Homo sapiens: one gene and its partners. The protein of the gene in region 7 interacts with the protein of the main gene of each other region in a biochemical or structural test. Each region holds a gene or a part of one and is shown on either strand. Other genes may lie near its edges. The genes, in order: HNRNPM, TOP2A, NACC1, NOP58, XRCC1, SUMO3 and UBE2I.

The links.
Region 1: of the proteins of UBE2I (region 7) and HNRNPM, one has a biochemical effect on the other in vitro, tested with the Homo sapiens proteins (2 studies listed by BioGRID).
Region 2: the proteins of UBE2I (region 7) and TOP2A form a complex in vitro, tested with the Homo sapiens proteins (2 studies listed by BioGRID, with this or other methods).
Region 3: of the proteins of UBE2I (region 7) and NACC1, one has a biochemical effect on the other in vitro, tested with the Homo sapiens proteins (2 studies listed by BioGRID).
Region 4: of the proteins of UBE2I (region 7) and NOP58, one has a biochemical effect on the other in vitro, tested with the Homo sapiens proteins (2 studies listed by BioGRID).
Region 5: of the proteins of UBE2I (region 7) and XRCC1, one has a biochemical effect on the other in vitro, tested with the Homo sapiens proteins (2 studies listed by BioGRID).
Region 6: the proteins of UBE2I (region 7) and SUMO3 form a complex in vitro, tested with the Homo sapiens proteins (2 studies listed by BioGRID, with this or other methods).

Annotation. Positions count from the first base shown.
Region 1 is NC_000019.10:8,447,975-8,451,474, reverse strand, and holds part of HNRNPM (heterogeneous nuclear ribonucleoprotein M), read right to left. Parts: intron 1-3,500. UniProt on the Homo sapiens protein: Pre-mRNA binding protein in vivo, binds avidly to poly(G) and poly(U) RNA homopolymers in vitro. Involved in splicing.
Region 2 is NC_000017.11:40,393,897-40,397,396, forward strand, and holds part of TOP2A (DNA topoisomerase 2-alpha), read right to left. Parts: intron 2,570-3,500; coding exon 2,387-2,569; intron 1,644-2,386; coding exon 1,553-1,643; intron 1-1,552. UniProt on the Homo sapiens protein: Key decatenating enzyme that alters DNA topology by binding to two double-stranded DNA molecules, generating a double-stranded break in one of the strands, passing the intact strand through the broken strand, and religating the broken strand.
Region 3 is NC_000019.10:13,121,264-13,124,763, reverse strand, and holds part of NACC1 (nucleus accumbens-associated protein 1), read right to left. Parts: intron 1-3,500. UniProt on the Homo sapiens protein: Functions as a transcriptional repressor. Seems to function as a transcriptional corepressor in neuronal cells through recruitment of HDAC3 and HDAC4. Contributes to tumor progression, and tumor cell proliferation and survival.
Region 4 is NC_000002.12:202,300,263-202,303,762, reverse strand, and holds the end of NOP58 (nucleolar protein 58), read right to left. Parts: coding exon 3,396-3,500; intron 843-3,395; coding exon 706-842; intron 378-705; coding exon 327-377; 3' UTR 102-326; downstream 1-101. UniProt on the Homo sapiens protein: Required for the biogenesis of box C/D snoRNAs such as U3, U8 and U14 snoRNAs. Part of the small subunit (SSU) processome, first precursor of the small eukaryotic ribosomal subunit.
Region 5 is NC_000019.10:43,565,528-43,569,027, forward strand, and holds part of XRCC1 (DNA repair protein XRCC1), read right to left. Parts: intron 1-3,500. UniProt on the Homo sapiens protein: Scaffold protein involved in DNA single-strand break repair by mediating the assembly of DNA break repair protein complexes. Negatively regulates ADP-ribosyltransferase activity of PARP1 during base-excision repair in order to prevent excessive PARP1 activity.
Region 6 is NC_000021.9:44,805,117-44,808,062, reverse strand, and holds the end of SUMO3 (small ubiquitin-related modifier 3 isoform 1 precursor), read left to right. Parts: intron 1-1,022; coding exon 1,023-1,112; 3' UTR 1,113-2,446; downstream 2,447-2,946. UniProt on the Homo sapiens protein: Ubiquitin-like protein which can be covalently attached to target lysines either as a monomer or as a lysine-linked polymer. Does not seem to be involved in protein degradation and may function as an antagonist of ubiquitin in the degradation process.
Region 7 is NC_000016.10:1,319,636-1,323,135, reverse strand, and holds part of UBE2I (SUMO-conjugating enzyme UBC9), read right to left. Parts: intron 2,963-3,500; coding exon 2,853-2,962; intron 2,699-2,852; coding exon 2,619-2,698; coding exon of another isoform or gene 2,477-2,618; exon of another isoform or gene 1-2,476. UniProt on the Homo sapiens protein: Accepts the ubiquitin-like proteins SUMO1, SUMO2, SUMO3, SUMO4 and SUMO1P1/SUMO5 from the UBLE1A-UBLE1B E1 complex and catalyzes their covalent attachment to other proteins with the help of an E3 ligase such as RANBP2, CBX4 and ZNF451.

The DNA of each region.
Region 1 (3,500 bases), on a different chromosome or scaffold from region 7:
GCTCTTTTTTTAACATGTCCAATCCTATTTTCTCACTATCTTCAGGACAAAATTAGGGGAAGATTCTTCTCTAGTCCATGTATATGTATACGTACATATAAAAACTTAACTCTGCAAGTCTTTTTAACTTTTGGCTGGGCGCGGTGGCTCACACCTGTAATCCCAACACCTTGGGGGGCCGAGGCGGGCAGATCACCTGAGGTCAGGAGTTCAAGACCAGCCTGGCCAACATGGTGGAAACCTGTCTCTAATAAACATACAAAAATTAGGCCAGGCACGGTGGCTCACGTCTGTAATCCCAGCACTTTGGGAGGCCGAGGCAGGTGGATTATCTTAGGTCAGGAGTTTGAGACCAGCCTGGCCAACATGGTGAAACCCCGTCTCTACTAAAAATACAAAAATTAGCTGGGCGTGGTGGCAGGCGCCTGTAATCCCAGCTACTCGGGAGGCTGAGGCAGGAAAATTGCTTGAACACAGGAGGCGGGGGTTGCAGTGAGCCGAGATTATGCCATTGCACTCCAGCCTGGGCGACAAGAGTGAAACTCCGTCTCAAAAACAAAACAAAACAAAACCAAAAATTAGCCGGGCATGGTGGCGGGTGCCTGTAATCCTAGCTACTCGCTACTTGGGAGGCTGAGGCAGGAGAATCACTTGAACGGGAGGCGGAGGTTGCAGTGAAGTGAGATAGCGCCACTGCACTCCAGCCTGGGCAACAAGAGCAAAACTCCATCTCAAAAAAAAAAAAAATAATAATAATAATAATTAATTAAATTAAATTAAAAATACGATTAATGCCTGTAATCCCAGCACTTTGGGAGGCCAAGGTGGGCGGATCACTTGAGCTCAGGAGTTCAAGAACAGCCTGGGCAACATGGTATAACACCATCTCTACAAAATATTAGCTAGGCATGGTACCATGTGCCTGTGGTCCTATTTACTCAGAAGGCTGAGGTGGAAGGATCGCTTGAGCCCAGGAGCTGGAGTTGCAGTGAGTAGAGATCGTACACTGCACCCCAGCCTGAGGGACAAGAGTGAAACTCCATCTCAAAAAACAAAAAAACCCTAATAAAAAGATTGAGTGCCTAATCTGCAAAAGACCACCACCAAATAGTGACTGCCTACCCTCTCTTAAGGTCTCCATGCAGTTCCCATGCGTAACACTCACTACTTTTGGAGTTTCTAATCAAGGAAAGGGTGCAGTTTGAAATGGCAATCCCAATACCCTGAAATTGTGATCACATCTCCTGAGGGACAAGGACCCCTCTGCCCGTGTGAGAACCATCCCTTATATAAAGTGATTCTTCACAGAAATCCCTCAAGTCCTGCGCTGCTCTAATGCATGTAAGGTGTGGAGAGCACTATTCACAGCACCATTCCAGCTCCAAGGCCACCACTGAACTACCCACATGACTCAAGCTCTTTCTGTCTCTAGCGCTTTACCAGCAAAACCAGCGCAACCTGTATGCATGGTAGCTCAGAGGGACACTGTGACAATCAACAAAGAATGGCAAAACAAAAAGCAGCTCATCTAGGGAAGCAGTACTGCATGTGGCTAAGAGCTGGGGTCACCATGTCGTCACTAGGCCTCGGTCCTATGGAGGCTACTACCTACACGCTTACAGCTTTAAAAGAGACTCTTAGGCCGGGCGCGGTGGCTCACGCCTGTAATCCCAGCACTTTGGGAGGCCGAGGCGGGCGGATCACGAGGTCAGGAGATCGAGACCATCCCGGCTAAAACGGTGAAACCCCGTCTCTACTAAAAATACAAAAAATTAGCCGGGCGTAGTGGCGGGCGCCTGTAGTCCCAGCTACTTGGGAGGCTGAGGCAGGAGAATGGCGTGAACCCGGGAGGCGGAGCTTGCAGCGAGCCGAGATCCCGCCACTGCACTCCAGCCTGGGCGACAGAGCGAGACTCCGTCTCAAAAAAAAAAAAAAAAGAGACTCTTAGCACACAGTGAGGCAATGATGTATTTTTCTACCAATAATTTTATTGAGAAGGGTAGAGAGGGGGACTGATTCACTCCTAGCCTTCTACTGTTCAGGCTTTAAAACTAGCAAACCAGAGCCAAGGCTGAGAAAACCTAGGCATCATAATCATTACAGACTAGCAAAGGGACAATTTAGCTTTCAACCCTATGACTGCAAAATATGGTAATGGGGAAGTCCATTGGAGAACCCCCCCTCCCAAAAAAACAAGCAAGCTAATCTTTGCAGGCTAGTATCTCTTTCCCTAACCAGAATAAAATCAAAGAGCTGAGTGAAAGCAAAGGCCTGGCAGCATGCATTCAAATAATCCAAAACCCTGTCTTCTAATCTTGAGCTCACAATCTGACGTGTCTCCAAAATCCTTTTTGAATAAACAATCACTCTTTAAAGTACAGCAAACACTCAAATGCATTGTATAGAGAATCTGATTTAAATAAAACAATTCAAACGGCTGTTTACTGAGTGGTTACCAAGGTAGTATCATGAAAGCAGCAAGCTGCCTGGGAGTCAGGAGGGCCTCCCCTGGAGTCTTTAGGTCAGGTTCCTGAACCTGGGTTTAAGTGTTTAAAACGAAAGTTTTCTTGATTGTCAAATGGAGTCAACTCTAACAGTACCTCCTCAGGAATCTACCCTAAATATATATTTTTATTTTTATAAATAACCAATCCATCTGTTTCTTATTCACCCACAAAATTACTCAGGAAGGGGCCAGGTGTGGTAGCTCACGCCTATAATCCCAGCACTTTGGGAGGCCAAGACGGGCGGATAACGACGTCAGGAGATCGAGACCATCCTGGCTAACAGAGTGAAACCCCATCTCTACTAAAAAAAAATATTAAAAAAATTAGCCAGGCATGGTGGCGGGCGCCTGTAGTCCCAGCTACTCGTGAGGCTGAGGCAGGAGAATGGCGTGAACCCGGGAAGCGGTTCACGGAGCTTGCAGTGAGCTGAGATCGCGCCACTGCACTCCAGCCTGGGCAACAGAGCGAGACTCCATCTCAAAAAAAAAAAAAAATTACTCAGGAAGGGGAGCAGGTTAAGTCATTTATTTTATATATGATACTACATTTAAAAAAATTTTAAAAACCTATACATTCCCCTAAAATGAACTTTTTTTTCCCTGACTATACCCTAACTCTGAATCTTTGCTGACTTTAATTGGAACAGACTTCTCATCAAAATTAAGCAAATCCTATTCTCACACCCAGGAGAGAAGTAACTGCAAAACAAGATTTCCAACCTGGGTTCCCAGATCAAGCTTGCTAGCTCACTGCATTTGTGGTCTACTGCACACTCCACTCCTGGTAGAGAAAGAATTCCAAAGAACCAAGTTTCTATTTTTCTCCTGTCTCTCAAAGGCTTTCAAGATAAAAATCCAAATTCACTGCCCATCAGCTGGCTGCCAGTGCTCCAACCTTAAAACTCTATAGCAACTTCAGTGTTCTTGTTTGTTTGTTTGTTTGAAGAAGGAGTATCGCTCTGTCGCCCAGGCTGGAGTGCAGTGGCCCAATCTC
Region 2 (3,500 bases), on a different chromosome or scaffold from region 7:
AATACAAAAATTATTTGGGCATGGTGGTGCGTGCCTGTAATCCCAGCTCCTCGGGAGGCTGAGGCAGGAGAATTGCCTGAACCTAGCAGGCGGAGGTTGCAGTGAGCCGAGATCTCACTACTACTGCATACTGCATGCCAGCCTGGGCGACAGAGCGAAACTCTGCCTCAAAAAAAAAAAAAAAAAAAGAATGAAGTACTAATATATGGGCTGCCACATGGGTTACCCTTGAAAATGTGTTAAGTAAAGAAGTCAGCTCCAAAAGACCACATATTATATGATTTAATTTATAGGAAATGCCCCTAGATTTTTTAGTGGTCACCCAGTGGAGAGGAGTTGGTGGCAAATGGCAAATGATTGTTAATGAGTTCAGTTTTCTTGGGGGGCAATAAATTGTATTAAAACTGTTTGTCTATACTAAAACCACTGAATGGCATACTTTATTTTTATTTTTGAGTTGGAGTCTTGCTCTGTCACCCAGGCTGGAGTGCAATGGCACAGTCTTGGCTCTCTGCAACCTCTGCCTCCTGGGTTCAAGCGACACTCGTGCCTCAGCCTCTCGAGTAGCTGGGACTACAGGCACGCACCACCACACTCAACTAATTTTTGTATTTTTAGTAGAGATGGGGTTTCACCATGTTGGCCAGGGTGGTCTTGAACTCCTGACCTCAAGTGATCCGCCAGCCTCAGCCTCCCAAAGTGCTGGGATTACAGGCATAAGCCATGGCGCCCAGCCAAATGGTATACGTTAAATGGGCAAATTTGGCATGTGAATATCTCAATAAAGATGTTTCAAAAAAAGTAGACAGTAAAGGCATTATCAAATGATTAACAGAATTATTAATTCTATTTAGTTCATTGAGTGGACATTATTTATATCCGAAGCATGATGTTGAACTCTAGAGATACTACAAACATTACTAATATGTAGTCACTTTTCTTAAGAAACTTTGTATACTAGAACCTCGTAAGTGGCTAGAAAATGAAATCTAATAAACTGGGTATTTTCTTAGATCCCAATTAAGGAATTCAAATTAACAAACTACTTCATTACAAAATATTTTCTATAATGAATCAAATCCCAAGGACGATATTAAAGAGGTCCAGGCCAGGGGCAGTGGCTCACGCCTGTAATCCCAGCACTTTGGGAGGCCAAGGCGGGCAAATCACAAGGTCAGGAGTTTGAGACCAGCCTGACTAACATGGTGAAACCCCGTCTCTACTAAAAATACAAAAAGCAGCCAGGCGTGGTGGCATGCACCTATAATCCCAGCTACTCAGGAAGCTGAGGCAGGAGAATCGCTTGAACCCAGGAGGTGAAGATTGCAGTGAGCCGAGATTGTGCTATTGCACTCCAGCCTGGGCAACAAGAGTGAAACTGTCTCAAAAAAAAAAAAAAAAAAAAAAAGAGGTCCAAGTAGAATTGAGATACAGTCCTCTTTCACGTTTCTCAATTCAACAAAAAGGTTTTGAACATCTATGTGGAATGTACTAGGTAACAAACACAATTTAATCTTCACTTTATACCATTTTTCTAAAAATGTTGTAATACCTGGTTCTCTTTTCTGTTTCTTTTCTAATCTTTGTTTTAGGCCTTCTAGTTCCACACCATCTTCTTGAGGGCTTCCTTCAGTATTTTCATTCTAAAAGATAGCAAAGTTAGGGTTGGATATAGAATAAATTCTGAACTATGGGATTAGAGATTTTATACATTTTTGGCTGGGAGCGGTGGCTCACGCCTGTAATCCCAGCACTTTGGGAGGCCGTGGTGGGCAGATCTCTTGAGGTCAGGAGTTCGAGACCAGCCTGGCCAAGATGGTGAAACCCCATCTCTACTAAAAATACAAAAATTAGCTGGGTGTGGTGATGTGCCCCCAACTACTTGGGAGGCTGAGGCACGAGAATCGCTTGAATACGGGAGGCGGAGGTTGCTGTGAGCTGAGATCCTGCCATTGCACTCCAGCCTGGGTAACACAGCGAGACTCCATCTCAACAACAACAACAAAAAAATTTTATACATTTTTTTTTCAATTTTAAGTGGACATATGCATCAATATTTTATGCATAATATTTTTAAGAGTATTACCTCTTTTTTTTTTTTGAGATGGAGTTTTGCTCTGTTGGCCAGGCTGGAGTGCAGTGGTGTGACCTTGGCTCACTGCAACCTCTGCCTCCCGGGTTCAAGCGATTCTTCTGCCTCAGTCTCCCGAGTAGCTGGGATTACAGGCGCCTGCCACCATGCCCGCCTAATTTTTTTAATTTTTAGTAGAGACAGGGTTTCAACCATGTTGGGAGGCTGGTCTTGAACCACTGACCTCAAGTGATCCACCCACCTTGGCCCCCAAAGTGCTGGGATTATAGGTGTGAGCCACCACAAGAGTATTACCTTAATTTTCTTTTTATTTTTCTTTTCTGCCTCTGCTTTCATTTCTATGGTTATTCGTGGAATGACTCTTTGACCACGCGGAGAAGGCAAAACTTCAGCCATTTGTGTTTTTTTCCCCTTGGCCTTCCCCCCTTTCCCAGGAAGTCCGACTTGTTCATCTTGTTTTTCCTTGGCTTCAACAGCCTACAGAAGGGATATAAGAAAGCAAGTTTAAATGTTAACAAAAACATTACAATATCTAAACACCCAACAGTTAAACTGATTTCATTTTGTTACATCTTAAAAACTAGTGATAAATTGCTCCATAACCTAGTATACTATCAACAATAGTGAAGATGTAATTAAAACACACCTTGAAAAGGAAGGTGTGGAGACAGAAGGACTGGGTTTTATTCCTGATTCTACCACTTAACCTTTTTGAGGAAAACAAGGGAGAAACTAAAAATAAAACATGTATATACATATATATTTGTAAACTCACATACAAAATATGAAAGGAAGTGATGCACACTTATCCAACCAACTGATTACAATGAGCTAGGCATCTATACTGAAGTGCAGTAATACAAATTTGCATGTTAAATTTAAGAAATAAAGCTTTTGGTGGTTTTTTTTTTGTTTTTTTTTTTTTAAGAGACACGCAGGCTGAGTACAATGGTACATGATCATAGTTCACTGCAGCCTTGAACTCCTGGTCTCAAGTGATCCTCCCACCTTGGCCTCCGGAGTAGCTGAGACTATAGGCCCACACCACCATGCCTGGCTATTTAAAAAAAACATTTTGTAGAGATGAGGTCTTGCTACGTTACCCAAGCTGGTTTTGAACTCCTAATCTCAAGTGATCCTCCTGCCTCAGCCTCCCAAAGCACATTGGGATTACAGGTGTGAGCCACAGTGCTGGCCTTTTTTCTTATGTTAAAATAATGTTGAGAAACAAATGTTATTAGGAAGATTTAAGTAACAAATAACCTTCTGAAACCATCTGGATAGCCCTGCTTTCTCCTTTTTTTTTTTTTTTTTTTAGATGGAGTCTTGCTCTGTCACCCAGGCTGGAGTACAGTGGCGCAATCTCGGCTCACTGCAACTTCTGCCTTCTGGGTTCAAGCAATTTTCT
Region 3 (3,500 bases), on a different chromosome or scaffold from region 7:
GGGCTAAGACCTACAAGCCAGTTAAGGGAGACCAGCAACTCCAAGTGTAACAAGGAACAAAGGCCCCAGAGAGCCCCACAGTCCTTCATGCAGCTCAGCAGGATGTGGCTGGATCCTGGCAGCTACTCAGGTTGCCTGCCTGACCCAGAACCAGAAAGACCCCTCTGTAGGGGCTGAATGTGAAGGCAGTCCAGGAAAACAGTTAGTGAAGAACAAACTGTTCAGTGGGGGGCGGTGACTCCTACCTGTAATCCCAGAACTTCGGGAGGCTGAGGCAGGAAGACGCTTGAAGCCAGGAGTTTGAGACCAGCCTGGGCAATACAGCAAGACCTCATCTTGCATCAGTATTTTTTTTTCTTTTTTGTTGAGACAGTCTTCCTCTGTCGCCCAGGCTGGAGTACAGTGGCGTGATTTCGGCTAACTGCAACCTCCGCCTCCTGGGTTCAAGCAATTCTCGTGCCTCCGCCTCCTGAGTAGCTAGGATTACAGGCACACACCACCATGCCTGGCTAATTTTTGTATTTTTAGTAGAGACTGGGTTTCTCCATGTTGGCCAGGCTGGTCTCAAAACTCCTGGCCTCAAGTGATCCGCCCACCTCAGCCTCCCAAAGAGCTGGGATTACAGGCGTGAGCCACTGCACCTGGCCTGTATTTTTTTTCTTATACACCCACAGATTTAATTCGTTATCTCTTTCCCTGAATGACTATTGTTAAATCCATGGTGGAATAGGATTAGTAACAGTGTCCCCTACTCAAGCCTCACTGACTGGGCCCATACCTGGCCAGGGCTCAGACAGGCTCATTTAACTTACTCTTCTTTACAGTTTCTGAGGAAGAAATGAGCCTGCCTGCCATTTCATGGATGGGAATGAGGCCCAGAGAGGTGAAGCCAGAGGTGGGGAACATGTAGCTGGTGAATGGCAGGCACAGGTTTATACCCAGGCCGTCTGGCTCCCGAATCAGGCAAAAATGTGAGGCAGCTGTGACTAGACCCATTTCACAGGTGGGAAAACTGGTGTTCAGAGAAGCAAGGCAGAGACCAGACGGGAACCCCGGACCGGCCGAGCCCAGAGCTGGGGCTCTTTACCTGAGCTACTGGATGTGTCCTCTCCAGAAACAGGGTCTTCTGCCTGTCTGAGGACCTCCACCTCAGGGTCTGGGGTGCCCTCTCTCTAATCCCCAAGGAAGGCCTTCTTCATTCTTTTCATTCTTCCTTTCCCAATCCTCCCAACTGCAGCTATTCTCTAGCCCCTTCTCCCTGCAACCACCATCTCCGGGAATGAGCAGTCTCCGCGTGCTGCCTCTCCCTCCTCCCACTCGCTCCTCCTCGCAGCCCTCGGCAATCTGGCCTCCCTTTGCAGGCAGCAGCTCCAGCTCCTTGGAGAGCCTGGCAGAAGCTCTGCCTCCGTCCTCATGGAGCTCGCAGCCTGCCCGCTCCCTCCCCACCAACTCCAACCATAAGCCCACCCTTCGGAGTTACATCCCACTCCCTGCGTGTAATCAGATCATACCCAAAAGACAGGGCAGCAGTGGCGGCAACCAAGGGTGGAGGGAACAACAGTAAGTGCAAAGGCCCTGAGGTGACCCTGGTGCCGCTAACACAAAGGAGGGTGGAGGGATGGGGATCATCCTGGGAGAGGGGCCTGCTGGGCTGTGCTAGGGAACCACGCAGGACCTAAGATTTTGAATCCTACTATTGTACTAGGCTCAAATCCCTTATAGAGCTTGTCACTCAGAATTACCCTCAATACTGCTCACCCCCCATATCAGTCTCCCATCTAGAAAATGGGCTGACAGCAGCAGCCACCTCACAAGGCTATTTCAAGGATTAAACAACCAAAGAACACAGGCCGATCGGCGCTCGCCCCGTAGTCGGTGCTCATGAATGCCAGCTGCTGTTAGTCGTATCCCCTGGCCCCGTGCTGGGCCGCAAACTCCCTGGGAGTAGAAGACATCTTATGCCTCTCACCATCTCCCAGACCTCGCACATTTCATGGGATTAACAGGCAGTGATCGCTGGGGTTTTCCCCAGAGCCTTCACAGCACTGTCCACTCACACCCCAGACGCCAACCTCTCCCGCAAACCTCATGATAACCAGACAGTGGAGATTCCCCACCCAGCCACTGCATTTGCGTCAATCATTCTTTGTGGTGGGGGCTGCCCTACACACTGTCTGATGTTGAACCGCATCCCTGGCCTATAAACCCACTAGATGCCAGCAGCACACCCCCCCCCCCCCGGCAGGGGCAACCAAAAATGTCCCCAGACATTCCCCAAGTGTCCCCGGAGGTAGGACTGTACCCAGTTGCGAATCACAGCAGTATAGTTGTGCCCACTTGTCACTCCTTATCAGAGGAGGACACTGAGGCTCAGAGGTAAAGACCTTTGCCCAGAGTCTCATGGCTGAGACAGGGGTGGTGCTAAGTGTGAAATTTCACTCTCTACTAGACCGTGTCTGCTCACCCTTACCTACCCTCTCCCTTTGCTCGATTTAGAAACCACGAACTGGACACAGTCAAAGCCCTCAGAGAAGACGCACAGGTCTCTAAGAACTGAGACCTTCGCCAAGGAGGCAGCACATGAGAAGGCTGGAGGGACATGACCACAACCACACACAGATCACAACCTAAGACACGTCACCTCTGCCGGCTCGGCTGGTCCTCACCCCACCTAATGTGCAAGCAGGCCCAGTCCCACCTCCCGGCCCCACCTCATGCGGCCCAGAGGGTTCTCTAGGGGAAGGCAGTAGCGGCTGAGAGGACTGAGGAGCAAATGCAGACACGAGGAACATGAAAGTGGCTGGAAGGCGGCACAGGGGTGGTAGCCAGACCACTTTGCAGCTTGTGTGAAGGAAGGACTAGGGTGCCTCAGTTGCCTTGTGTGTCAAATGATGATAACAGGCAGGACCTGCTAGCCACGGGCTTAAATGAGTTCGAGTGTGTACAAGTGCTGAGAGCAACCTAGGAGGAGAAACGAGGGGCACGGAGGATCTGAGGACGCAGAGTGGCATGAACACTGACTCATGTTTTCCAGCCCCGGTGGCTCACCACCATCCCAAAAGCAATATGCCCCACCAAGCCTGATGGGATCCCTCTCTCCACACAGGCTCTGGCAATGACACTGATGAAATCTAGGGTCAGACAATGTTGGGCCAACCCCAAACTCTCTCCAAACCCCCGGGCCTCCAGGCAGACTCCTTCAATAGACCCTGTAAGGCTGACCAAAACTCACATCTCCTCAAAGCCCAGCTCAAGAACCTGCTGGGGCTCCCTGCTGCCCGGCCAGGAGGCCAGATTTTTTAAATACCCTAGATGCAGGCCAAGGGGTTCTGAACTTCCATCTGGGGGTGATGGGCAGATCCAGGAGACCCAGAGACAGGGCTTCACTCTCTTGTGAATGGTACTAGAGTCTCTGTCTCCACAGTAGGGTCATCCCCCCACTCCTTCCCTCATGAAGACAAAATGTTTAGAGCACTCAGAAGAAGACTGGTACATACTCA
Region 4 (3,500 bases), on a different chromosome or scaffold from region 7:
ACTTTTCAGTTATAATTATCAAAACAATAATCATCACATGGCAAACTACAGAAAGAGCCAAAGATTCTCTACCTAAGATATAAAGAGATCACAAAATTGTCTTAAAATACAAAGAAAATTTTATTTGTATATCAAAGACTCTAAGAAATGATGACATAAGGTTAACAGAGTTGATGTCAAGACAAATAGGTTTGAAGTTATAGATGATAAATCACTTTGTCTTACTGAACCTTCCCTTGATTACGTTAGAGAGCATCCCTGGTATGCTCCCAGTTGAATCTTAAGCATGATGTGTGTCCGGGTGATATAATCGTAATTCCTTTCTGTTAATCCTCGTTCTCTCTCTTTTTTTTCTTTTTCTTCTTTTTCTCTGGACTCTGAAAATAGCCAACAAGAATGCTTTGAAAGAGCTGAAATTGTATGGGTGAGTAATCACATTGAAAATATAAAAACCCCACCTATAAAAAAAGTAAGCTTGAGCAAATCATACTCCTCCCCTCAATGCAAACTTGATTTTTAGTAATAAATTCTAGATTTGGGAAATGGCCTTTTATAATATAAATACAACAAAGCCATTTCACTTTTACCTCTCCATCAATGAAAACCATTTTTTAAAATGCCTGCTCATTTCTGATATAGAAAATAGATTGAAATATAGAGAACTGGCCCCTCCAAGTGAAAACCGATAATTAAAAACAAACATACAGCAATTGCTGTGCTGGTACATGGTTCTTCCTCAGAAAGTGGTTCTTCCTTAATGTGTTTCTTTTTACCCCTTTTCTTCTTCTTCTTCACAGATGTTTCTTCTTCTTCTGCCACTTTTTCTTCTTCCTCTTCTTCAACTGAATAGGGTAAGTGTAAAGGCACAACAAATTAACACTGTATCAGATCTCATTCCTTCCAAAAACGTTTGAGTCCTAGTTTTTTTCTGTCATTCTCATCAACTACCCAATGTTTGTTTTGTTTATTTTATAATTGGGAAGGTTCTCCAAGGCCTACCACTAACTTTAACGAATGATATAGATAGAGCTCAGAGCAATCTTCTCACGATCATGAAGTCATGTATAAAAATCAGGATTAAAACAAAGGTCATCTGATCTCCAATCATTATTGGGAAGAAAGTCAATTATATTAGAAATGGTTAAGAGCTTGCACTCTGAAGTCAGACGGCCTGGGTTTAATCTACCTGCTGCAACCCTGAAAAATTGTATTTACCCTTGGTGAAGCTCCCTATCTATAAAACTTAAGAATGTCTTATCTTACTGGACTGTTACTGATTTAAAAAGATGATGCATAGAAAGCACTAAGTATAATGCTTAGCACACATTACAATAAGGACTCAACACATAGCTATCATTAGACATTCAGTGACCAGCTGGGTGCAGTGGCTCACGCCTGTAATCTCAGCACTTTGGGAGGCTGAGGCGGGAGGATCACTTGAGGTCAGGATATCAAGACCAGCCTGGCCAACATGGTGAAATCCTGTATCTAATAAAAATACAAAAAAGTTAGCTAGGCATGGTGGTGCATGCCTGTAATCCCAGTTATTCAGGAGGCTGAAGCACGAGAATTGCTTGAACCCAGGAGGCGGAGGCTGCAGTCAGCCAAGATCACGCCACTGCACTTCAGCCTGGGCGACAGAGGGAGACTCTGTCTCAAAAAAAAAAAAAAAAAAAAAAGAAAAAAAAAAGAAAAAGAAAAGAGAGAGAAATTCAGCAATTCAGCAACCAAATAATATTCATGTCAGACTCTGTACTAAACAATTCGAGCAAGGCACAAGAGGCAAAAATATTCGTTTCCCTATGAATCTTTTTTATTTTAGTGGCAGAGTGGAGACATAAATGATACATTACATAATAGATATTAAAGTGGTAAGAATAAAAATAAAGCAGGAAGGGGAATGTTGGAAAAGGGCAGTATATATGGCCATTTTAGGCAGAATGGTCGGCAAACACCTAGAAGAGGTGAGGGAGTGAATGAATGATACATGTATCTTGAGGGAAAATAGTCCAGGTAGAGTAGAGCAGATGCTTAAGTCGTAAGGCGTTTTGGAGGGCAGATGGGATAAGTGGATGGATAGTAGGTTCAGGAAATAGCAAGCAGGCCAGTATGGCTGGAACAAATTTAGATTTAAAAAGCTAGTGGTGGTTCCACTGTGGCTACTACATACTTTCAAGTGGAACTGAGAGGATTTGCTGTCAGACTAGATTGAGTTATGAGAAAAAAGTCAAGGTTGATGGCCAAAGCAACTGGAATTGTCACATATAGAAAATGGGAGAGGACTGGGCGTGGTGGCTCATGCCTGTAATCCCAGCAGTTTGGGAGGCCGGAGTGGGTGGATCACAAGGTCAGGAGTTTGAGACCAGGCTGGCCAACATGGTGAAACCCTGTCTCTACTAAAAATAAAAAAATTAGCTGGGCGTGGTGGTGCGTGCCTGTAATCACAGCTACTCAAGAGGCTGAGGCAGGAAAATTGCTTGAACCTGGGAGGTGGAGGTTGCAGTGAGCCAAGATCATGCCACTGCACTCCAGCATGGGTGACAGAGCAAGATTCTGTCTTGGGGGTAAAAAAAGAGGGGGGAAATTGTGGGATGAAAAATTGACAAATAAATTGGAAAAGCTTATTGGATACACAATTGAGGATACAAAGGACAGAGTTTGGTGCCTCAAATGCTACTAGTGGGTTTAGGGATCTCCTTACTTTTCAATAAAAAGAAGCATAAAAGTTAAATAAATTGTTTGTTTTCTCTATCAAGTATACTATCCACATTTGTAGATCATATACTTTTGACCACTAAGCTACTTAGAAACCAAGTTAAAGCAATCATTGTGTTAATGCTTTACTCTTCTGCTAGACTTGCTAGTAGGTGTTCAATAAACCCAGGTGTAACTAATAATGGGGCGCCTGCTTATCAACTTCACAAGACAGCCTAGTTAACTGGTGAGCACCTGTTAGATATTGTAACTATGACGGCAGGCTACCAGTATGTATTCCTTCCAGTCCGCTCCGTGTAAGAGAAACAATGAAGAAAATCACTGTTCCATCAATTCTGTATTCATTCTTAACTATAAAACAAAAAATTTTCAACAACCAATTTAGAAAACACGTTCCTTTTTTCTCTTAATTCTCCAAATAGTTCATGTAGGAGAAATGAAGTTTTGGAACTCTTAGTAAAATACCTAATTTGACTAAACTTCTCACATTTCCTCTGTGCAGTCTGATAAATTTAACAATATCATATTCCCAGAGAACATAATGGCATTATTAAAACACCATTAGCGTTCAATGAGCAGTTTTATAATAAAGTGGGATGGCATGTACTTTTAAGACTCACAAAATCCACAGTTCTAAAGAAGTGAGTATAAGTTGTGTTAAAAAAAAAATTCAAACTAACCTTTAACTTTAATCTTGGCTTTTTTGGCTTTCTTTTCAGTAATTTCATCCTCTTTATCTACCTGTTCTATTTTGCGTTTTTTAGAACAGGTTGGAAGTGTGGAGT
Region 5 (3,500 bases), on a different chromosome or scaffold from region 7:
AGCTCCTAAATGTGGTAGGATGGAGATGCTTGTATTTTAAATGAACAATTCCTACTGCATATATAACTATTTCTACTTTAAACAGGCACTCCCTGACATTTCTTCTTTGTATATAAAAAAAGTCCTGGCTAGGAGCACTGGCTCACGCCTGTAATCCCAGCACCGTGGGAGGTGGAGGCGGGAGAATCACTTGAGGCCAGGAGTTCGAGACCAGCCTGGCCAACATAGCAAAACCCTGTCTCTACCAAAAATAAAAAAAGTTAGCTGGGTGTGGTGACACGCACCTCAATAATCCCAGCTACTCAGGAGGCTAAGGCACAAGAATTACTTGAACCTGGGAGGTGGAGGTTGCAGTGAGTTGAGACGAGCCACTACACCCCAGCCTGGGTGATAAAGTGAGACTCTGTCTCAAGAGAGAAAACAACAGGCTGGGCACAGTGGCTCACACCTGTAATCTCAGCACTTTGGGAGGCCAAGGCAGGCAGATCACTTGAGGCCAGGAGTTCAAGACCAGCATGACCAATATGGTGAAACCCTGTCTCTACTAAAAATATAAAAATTAGCCAGACTTGGTGGCGTGCACCTGTAATCCCAGCTACACAGGAGGCTGAGGCCAGAGAATCACTTGAACCTGGGAGGCAGAAGTTGCAGCGAACCGAAATCATGCCACTGCACTCCAGCCTGGGTGACAGAGTGAGACTCCATCTAAAAAAAAAAAAAAGTGGCCAGGCACGGTGGCTCAGGCCTGTAATCCTAGCACTTCGGGAGGCAGAGGTTGGCAGATCACAAGGTCAGGAGAGTTCAAGACCAGGCTGGCCAAGAGGGTGAAACCCCGTCTCTAGTAAAAATACAAAAATTAACCAGGCATGGTGGCAGGCGCCTGTAATCCCAGCTACTCGGGAGGCTGAGGCAGAGAATTGCTTGAACCCAGGAGGCGGAGGTTGCAGTGAGCCAAGATCATGCCACTGCATTCCAGCCTGGGTGGCAGAGCAAGACTCTGTCTCAAAAAAAAAAAAAAAAAAAGTAAATAAATACTTTTTAAGAATCTGATAAAAATGTTTATACATGGAGGCTGGGGTGGTGGCTCACGCCTGTAATCCCAACACTTTGGGAGGCCAAGGCAGGTGGATTTCTTGAGCCCAGGAGTTCAAGACCAACCTGGGCAACACGGCGAAACCCCGTCTCTACTAAAAACAGAAAAATTAGTTGGGCATGGTGGCATGCGCCTGTAGTCCCAGCTACTCAGGAGACTGAGGCACGAGAATCACTTGAACCTGGGAAGCAGAGGTTGCAGTGAGCCGAGATTGCACCACTGCATTCCAGCCTGGGCAACAGAGCAAGACTCAATCTCAAAAAAAAAAAAAAAAAAAGGTTTATATATACATGGTAACAACCCAATAAATGTCCATCAGTTGATGAATAGATAAACATTGTACAGTATATTTATGGAATATCATCCAGTTATTTAAAAAACTGAAGTTGTGATATATGCTACAACATGGATGAACCTCAGAAACATTATGCAAAGTGTAACAAGGTTAAGTGTAAAAGACCACGTATACATTTATAAGTCCAGAATACGCAAATCCAGAGAAGCAGAAAGTAGATCAGTGGTTGCCAAGGGCAACATTGGGGAGAGAATAAGAAGTGACTGTTTAATGGTTATGTGGTTTCTTTTTGGAGTGATGAAAATATTCTGAATTAGAGAATGGAGATGGTTGAAGAACATTGTCAATATGCTAAAAAAAAAAAAAAAACCCTGAAATGTGCACTTTATTTATTTATTTATTTATGTTTTTTGTTGAGACGGAGTCTCACTCTGTTGCCCAGGCTGGAGTGCAGTGGTGCAATCTCAGCTCACTGCAAACTCTGCCTTCCAGTTCAAGTGATTCTCTTGCCTCAGCCTCCCGAATAGCTGGGACTACAGGCACGCACCACCACCCCCGGCTAATTTTTGTATTTTCAGTAGAGATGGGGTTTCACCATGTTGGCCAGCCTAGTCTCGAATCCCTGACCTCAAGCAATCCACCCGCCTTGGCCTCCCAAAGTGCTGGGATTACAGGTGTGAGCTACCGCATCTGGCTGAAATGTGCACTTTAAATGGTTAAAACAGTAAATTTTATGTGAATTTTTCTCAAAATAAGAGATGAGTGCTCAGTATGTATCAGCTGTGAGGATAAGAGCACAAGATGACTATCACCGATGGCCTGGGTTCGTGTGCATGCAGCTTTCTCAGGGAGACACAGTTCTGATATGAACTGTTCCTGAAACAAACATGGCACAGGAAGGCAAAGTTCCTGAGATATATTGCTAAAAAACTGTTTCACATCCATGAAATGCAATCTTTTCTTTTTTTTTTTTTTTTGAGACAGAGTCTTGCTCTGTCACCCAGGCTAGAGTACAGTGGCACGATCTCGGCTCTCTGCAACCTCCGCCTCCCGGGTTCAAACAATTCTCCTGCCTCAGCCTCCCAGGTAGCTGGGATTACAGGTGCCCACCACTGCACCTGGCTAATTTTTATATTTTTAGTAGAGACAGGGTTCCACCATCTTGGCCAGGCTGGTCTTGAACACCTGACCTCGTGATCCACCTGCCTCAGCCTCCCAAAGTGCTGGGATTACAGGCGTGAGCCACCGCGCCCGGCCATGAAATGCAATTGTATGCATCATTTAAAAGAATAAGGTAGGCTGCGCACGGCGTGGCTGACGCCTGTAATCCCAACACTTTGGGAGGCCAAGGCAGGAGGATCACTTGAGGTCAGGAATTCAAGACCAGCCTGGCTAACATGGGGAAACCCCATCTCTACCAAAAATACAAAAATTAGCCAAGCCTGGTGGCATGTGCCCGTAATCCCAGCTACTAGGGAGATTGAGGCAGGAGAATCACTTGAAGCTGGGAGGGGGAGGTTGCAGTGAGCCACGATCGCACTACTACACTCCAGCCTGAGTGACAGAGCGAGATTCTGTCTCAAAGTAAGTAAGTAAGTAAGTAAGTAAATAAATAAATAAATAAATAAGGTAGAACTTCATGCAGTGTGCATCTCCAAAATACACTGTTACTTGAAAAAAAACACACAAGGGAACAGTGTATATACTATGAATTTTTTAAAAAGGGATGGAGGCGGTAGGTATATATGCTTGTATGTGTACAGAATGACCCAGGAAGACCACCCAAAAAAACTGCTAATGGTGGTTGCATCAGGAGAGAAGAATGAGGGAGCAGGAGTTGGGGAGGGAGCAGGAGTTGGGGAGGGAGCAGGGAGGGATGGAAAGGGTGAGGGGAGATTTTCTTTTTAGTGTATACCCTTTTGCACCTTTTGAATTTTGCACTATATGCATATAATACCCATTCAGAAAGCAAATATAATAAAACCCCAATGGCCAGGTCTTTGTGGCTCTGTCTGTAATCCCTGTAATCCCAGCTACTCAGGAAGCTGCCTCCAAAAAGCTTAAAAAAAAAAAAAAAAATTAGTTGGGTGTGGTGGTGTGCACCTATAGTCC
Region 6 (2,946 bases), on a different chromosome or scaffold from region 7:
GAATGTTTTATGTGGAAATATTTTTGCAAAACATTTAAGATTTTAAATATTTACTATTCAGTATTTAATAAATATTGAAAACATCTTTGCAACAAGTATCCATTTGTACCTACTTGAGGAAACCTACACACCGCTGAGGCAGTGGCAGCTCTGGGAGTGTTCACCAGGGAGAAGCTGCTGAGAGCAGCTGAGCAGGGAGGGCCTCGTGGAGTCTCTGGGGCTTGACTGGGGGTCAGGGGGCTGGCTGTGGACAGGTGGACCGAGAGGCAGAGGGAGCCCTGCCTGGGGGCTCTCCCTCCAGCCCATAGTGTCGGTGGCAGGGTGAGGGTGGCCGACAGCCCTGATGGGACTCCTTTCCATCTGGGAGCATGACTACTTCCAGCCTTGCTGAGTCTGTGTAGGAACTGGCAGAAGCTTCCTCTTGCTTAGAGGATGGAAGAAGATCAGGGTGGGTGTTTTGCGCCCACTGTGTCAGGAGGAGAGAAGTGAGCGGGGGTGTTTCACTACCTTGCCTGGGCTTTAAATGGGGAGGGGCGGGGAGAAGCTGGCAATGGACCCTCACTTGACGGGCCCTTCTGTGAGCTGGGGGCTTTGGCTTTCATGGCATGGTCCCCCGCACTTGGTATAAAGCGCAAGGCTCCTGTGGGTCCTAGGACTCAGTGCTGCTAATCAGATGTTCTTAATTAGAATCTGATTTTGTGTAATTTTCAGTAAGAATTTTAGACATTTCAGTTTATCTTCTAGACTCAGTTTTTCTCTCAGTTAACATTTTAGCTTTGAATCTGCTTTTGTGAGTTTTGTTAGGGGAAGCTTGTTGAACCGTAAGGGCTGTAGTGAGCATACAGCAATGCCTCTTCCATGCGTGCTGAGCTGCAGTGAGGGGACGGACAAGAGCCAAGGTGTGACCAGGTGATGTCGCTAGTGTCAGGGAACACTCATGCCAGTGAGGATCTTCCCACTCTCTGATGAAAACTAACAGGCTCCCCTCTCTCTCGCTGTGCCTGTTGTGACAACCATGACAGCTGGAGATGGAGGACGAGGACACCATCGACGTGTTCCAGCAGCAGACGGGAGGTGTGCCGGAGAGCAGCCTGGCAGGGCACAGTTTCTAGAGGGCCCGTCCCCAGCCCGGGCCGTCCATCCTCGCATTGCTGTTGAATGGTGAGCACGTGACCATGCCGACCACAAAGGTGTCTGCGGAAACTCGAGGACATTCACCACGATGATTTTCCTCTCTTTGATGTACTTCAAGTGCAACTCAAAACTATATCTGCAGGGATGAATCTGTAACTTAAATTGGGCCAATCAGAATTGTTATCTTTGTTCAGGTAAAATGAGTTGCAAGATATTGTGGGTACTTTTGTGTGCTCATTTGTGTTTTCCCCCCCTCCTACAACATTTTTTTAACCCCAAAATTATAGCCTGAATGTTCGCTTTTAGTCTGGCCAGGGATCTGACTCCTGAGTTGGTTGCCTCTCCCCTGCTCACTCCAGTCACATAGAGAATTGGTGTTTCCCGCAGTGGGGATGCAGCTGTTGGACAGGTATTGGGGGCAAGGTTGGTAGGGAGGACAGACTGTCACTTGCTGTTACAGGCACAGGTGATTAAAATGCTAAATATTGCAAATTTAAGCTTTGTCAGTATATGGAAAAGTTGAAGGGAAAATACTGGAATGCTTCTTCAAAGGTTAAAAAATAACCGAGTCTTTTGGTAATTTGACCCCACGTGCTCTCTGGCCCTCAAGCATGTAACCTCGGGGTCTGAGGCCCAGGACCCACCCCCCTGCCACCCCTCCCACCCCACTCCCTGCTCAGTACCTGGCGTTGGTACACAGGCAAGGATTGGCACAACCAAAATTGGCCTTTTTCTCCCTCTTAATATTGAAGAAATTCCCACATTTCTCATTTGGTAATGGTGTTGTGGCCTCAGATTTCTTCTAGTATTTGCTTCTGATGAATGATTATGGTCTATACATAAAAAAGTAAGACTAAGTATTGCTGAATTTGCAGTTATGTTGTCGTGTATAAGAGCTACTTCCAAGTGTGGTTACAAATGAACCCATGGAATGATGACTTCATGTTCTTCTCGTGGGTTTGTGCCGTGCTGCTTTCCAAATAGGTATTGAATTTATGCATTAGTCTGGTGATTTCAGTTCTGTGAAATATTTTGGGATCTATACCAATTAAACATTTTCATAGTTCTGCCTATTGTCCTTCCCTGAGGCTCCATTGCTGCTTGGTGGCCATTCTCTGCCTTTTTACAGTCACCTGAACAATGACCCATCATCTCTTGCTTGCTTGAAATCTTGCTGAAATGTTCTCATTTCCTGTTTGCTGTATGGGCTCGGGTGGGATGTTTGTTGGCTCTGTTGTGTTTATTCACCAATTTGTACATTATTTGTTGTCCTTTACTACTGTAAACAGTAAATATAGTTTGGTATTCTGTCTCTTGGCTTCTACTAAACACTGCATTTGAAGGTTGGGGCATACTGGTACAATTCAGTGTTTGAATTGACCATTCCAGGCAGCCACTGCACTGAGAAACTTTGATTGAAAAGCTAGCCGCTGGAAGGTTAGTATTCGCCTGGCAGCTCATTTCCCCTCCCCTGGCACATCACCAATGCTAGTCCAGCCTTCTTCCTGCTGAGGGATGCATCCTCTCCTCAGAGACCTCCTGGCTGACAGCTGTCTGAGCTGGCATCACTGTGACATGTTACCCTCCCTCTCCTGGGTTTCGTATGTAAAGAAAGGGTGGATTTTAGAGGCAGGTGAGCTTGGGTGTTAGTCTAGGACATCTCTCGTTTTCTGGTGTTTGAATGTAAGTCAGCTTTCCTTCTGCCATGGACAACTTACCTATCTGCTTTGAAACTGAACTGACATTGATTTGGCTTTAAGAATTTCCCAGTGTGCAGTGGTGTAACAAAACCCAGGTTGAAAATGAGCTGTT
Region 7 (3,500 bases):
TTTTTTATTTTTACTAGAGATGGGGTTTCACCGTGTTAGCCAGGATGGTCTCAATCTCCTGACCTCGTGATCTGCCCACCTTGGCCTCCCAAAGTGCTGGGATTACAGGCGTGAGCCACCGCGCCCGGCATGCTTTTTTTTTTTTTTTTGAGACAGGGTCTCACTTTGTCACCCAGGCTGCAATCTTGGCTCACTGCAGCATCAACCACCTGGGCTCAAGCAGTCCTCCCACCTCAGCCTCCCAAATAGCTGGGACTACAGGCATGCACCATCATCCCCGGCTTAATTTTTTTTTTTTTTTTTTTTTTAAAGAGAGCAGGTCTTGCCATGTGGCCCAGGCTGGTCTCCAACTCCTGGGCTCAGGTAACGTCCCACAGTGGCCTTGCAAAGTGCTGGGATTACAGGCATGAGCCACCACCCCTGGCAAATTTTTTAATTTTTTGTAGAGATAGGGTCTCGCTATGTTGCCCAGTCTAGTCATGAACTCCTGAGTTCAAGCAATCAGCCCACCTTGGCCTCCCAAAGTGTTGAGATTACAGGTGTTGGGCCACCACACTTGGCCTAGAAATCATTTTCCAGGCACGGTGGCTCATGCCTATAATCCCGGCACTTTGGGAGGCGAGGCGGGTGGATCACCTGAGGTCAGAAGTTCGAGACCAGCCTGGCCAACGTGGTGAAACACTGTCTTTACTAAAAATACAAAAATTAGTCAGGTGTGGTGGTGGGTGCCTGTAATCCCAGCTACTTGGGAGGCTGAGGCAGGAGAATCACTTGAACCCAGGAGGCAGAGGTTGTAGTGAGCTGAGATCACACCACTGCACTCCAGCCTGGGCGACAGAGTGAGACTCTGTTTAAAAAAAAAAAAAAAAAAAAAAAAGAAAACATTTTCTGCCTCAAGGGCCATGTGGACACCCACGAGCACTGTGGCTTCCTGTCCAAGGGAATGCATTTCACGGACTCCTAGGGCACAGCAGGCCAGCACACAAACCCAGGTCACGCCACGTCCCACGAGCCACTTCCAGCAATGGCTTGGCTGACTGAGCGGCTATGAGTTTTTTTTTTTTTTTGAGACAGGGTCTCGCTTTGTCAAGCAGGCTGGATTGCGGTGCTGCAATCTCAACTCACTGCGCATCAACCTCCTGGGCTCAAGCAGTCCTCCCACCTCAGCCTCCCAAATAGCTGGGACTACAGGTGTGCACCACCATGCAGGGGAGCCAGGCTGAGCCTGGGGTGGCTGCTGTGATACTTGCTCCCTGCCTGGGGCCTCTGTGCCACCCTCGGCCACCAGGGAGGGCACCTTGCAGACACCTGGGCTGGGCCCGCATCCAGGGAGAAACACATCTCTCCAAAACCACGTGCTTTTTTTTTTTTTGAGACAGCATTCCTCCGTCGCCAGGCTGGAGAGCAGTGGCAGGATCTCGGCTCACTGCAACTTCCGCCTCCCGGGTTCAAGTGATTCTCCTGTCTCAGCCTCCCAGGTAGCTGGGATTAGAGGCACCCACCACTACGCCCAACTAATTTTTTGTATTTTTAGTAGGGACGAGGGTTTCGCCATGTTGGCCAGGCTGGTCTCGAACTCCTGACCGCATGATTCACCCACCTCGGCCTCCCAAAGTGCTGGGATTACAAGCGTGAGCCACTGCGCCCGGCCGAAACCAGGTGCTTTTCCTCACGACCTGTGCAGGCCGGGCCTAAGGCAACCGGGACCCCTCAGCCTCCCCCCTCCTGACCAGGAGATGCACCCTGGAGGGAGAGGGCCTCTGATGCCCACAGTGGCAGGGATGTGTGGGGTGGCTGCAGGTGAGCCTTCTGGGTCCCTGGCCATTGGGGGCCCTGAGACCCCCTCAGAGGTGTGGGGACCCGTGGTGAGATGGGGCTGGGTTTCTCAACGCTGCAGGCGGAGCAGTGGGGGGTCGGAGGCCCCAACCCACCTTCTTATGGACCTGCCCAGAACAGCTGCAGAGGGAACAGGACAGGCGGGCGCATGGCCTCTGCTCAGGGCAGGGTCCTCCCTGCTTTCCCCAGCACTGTTTGGCTGTCGTCTGCATCCTAACTCACACCAGGCCCTCCTCGGTGCAGACAGGACCCCAGGCCCACGGGGACCCTTCTAGCCACAGCAGCACCTCACAGGGACAGGGTGGAAGCCCAGGGTCCGTGTGACAGCATCACGTCACTGAGCCCTGCTGGGCTGGGCCCCCCCACAGAAGGAACCAAGTTGTAGAGGGGATGGGGACAAGCAGCAAGGGCGGCGCGGGAGGCTGGGGTCCATGGGAGGCTGAGCCGGTGGAGAGGCCTCTCAGCATGGCCTCCTCTGGCACCCACGCCCAGGGTCCTTCCCCTCCTAGCTGGCCACAACTCACTGGGGCAGTGGCCCAAGACAGCCCGTCACCTGGCCTGCTCCCTCCCCGGGACACGGCTCCGGCGCCATCCATGCCCACCGCAGACGGTGTGCAACGGTGCCTGCTGCCCACAGGGTTTATGCCCCCCGACCTTCCCCACAGAGGCGTGGACCCTGGCTGTCCGTAGGGTGAGCCTGTGTCCTCCACTCCCGTCCTGCCAGGCGGCCTTGGCTGGGACGGGGAGGAGCTGCCACCAGCGGGGCCAGGGCTGCTACTAACCAGTAAATCGTGTAGGCCTCTGCTTGAGCTGGGTCTTGGATATTTGGTTCATTTAGAAGTTCCTGTATTCCTAATAGGATCTGTGCCAGAGACAAAAACACAAGACGGGTGTGAGCAGTTTGAAAGGGAGACACCGTGAGACTCGGCCTCAGCCACAGAGAATGACCACAGACCCACGTGTCCGGAGGGGAGACTAAGGCAGCCCTGCCGGTGCCAGAGGCGGAGGCCCCGTACCTGTTTGATTGTGATGGCTGGCCTCCAGTCCTTGTCCTCCTCTAAGATGGACAGGCACACTGTCCCCGAAGGGTACACATTCGGGTGAAATAATGGTGGTTCGAATTTACCTGGAGGAAGAGGAAGAAAGGAAGCACTTTTTGGAGGCAGGCACTGTCCCAGAGTCACGTCCTTCCCCACATCACCCTCCTCCCAACACTGGGGCCCCGGGTTGGTAGCCAGGTTATTTGGCCAAAAACTTTTCAAAAAAATTAAATTGTGGCCATGAGGAGACTAAAGGAAGACATATCCACCTTTGCACACAGGGAACAGAGCCTTGGGGACACGGCCGCAGCCGAGACGAAGCTGTGTCTCTCCCAGGACAGAACTCCCAGCACAGCCAGGCAGTCTGGGAACACAGGCCCCAGGGTGGCCACTTAACCTGTGGCCCCCACATCCTTTCCAGCTGGGCCAGACTCAGGGGAGATGGGAGGAGCTGCAGGAGACGTCCAGGGACATAGCCAACGCCCTTCCAGAGTCGGCTGTTCCGACGCAGACCCTCTGCTTCCAGGATATACGGGCTTTTAGGACCCTGTGTTATTTCTTTACAAAAAAGCAGAAAAGTTTGCCACCATTAGCCCCACCAGGGACCATCACAGTTGATATTCT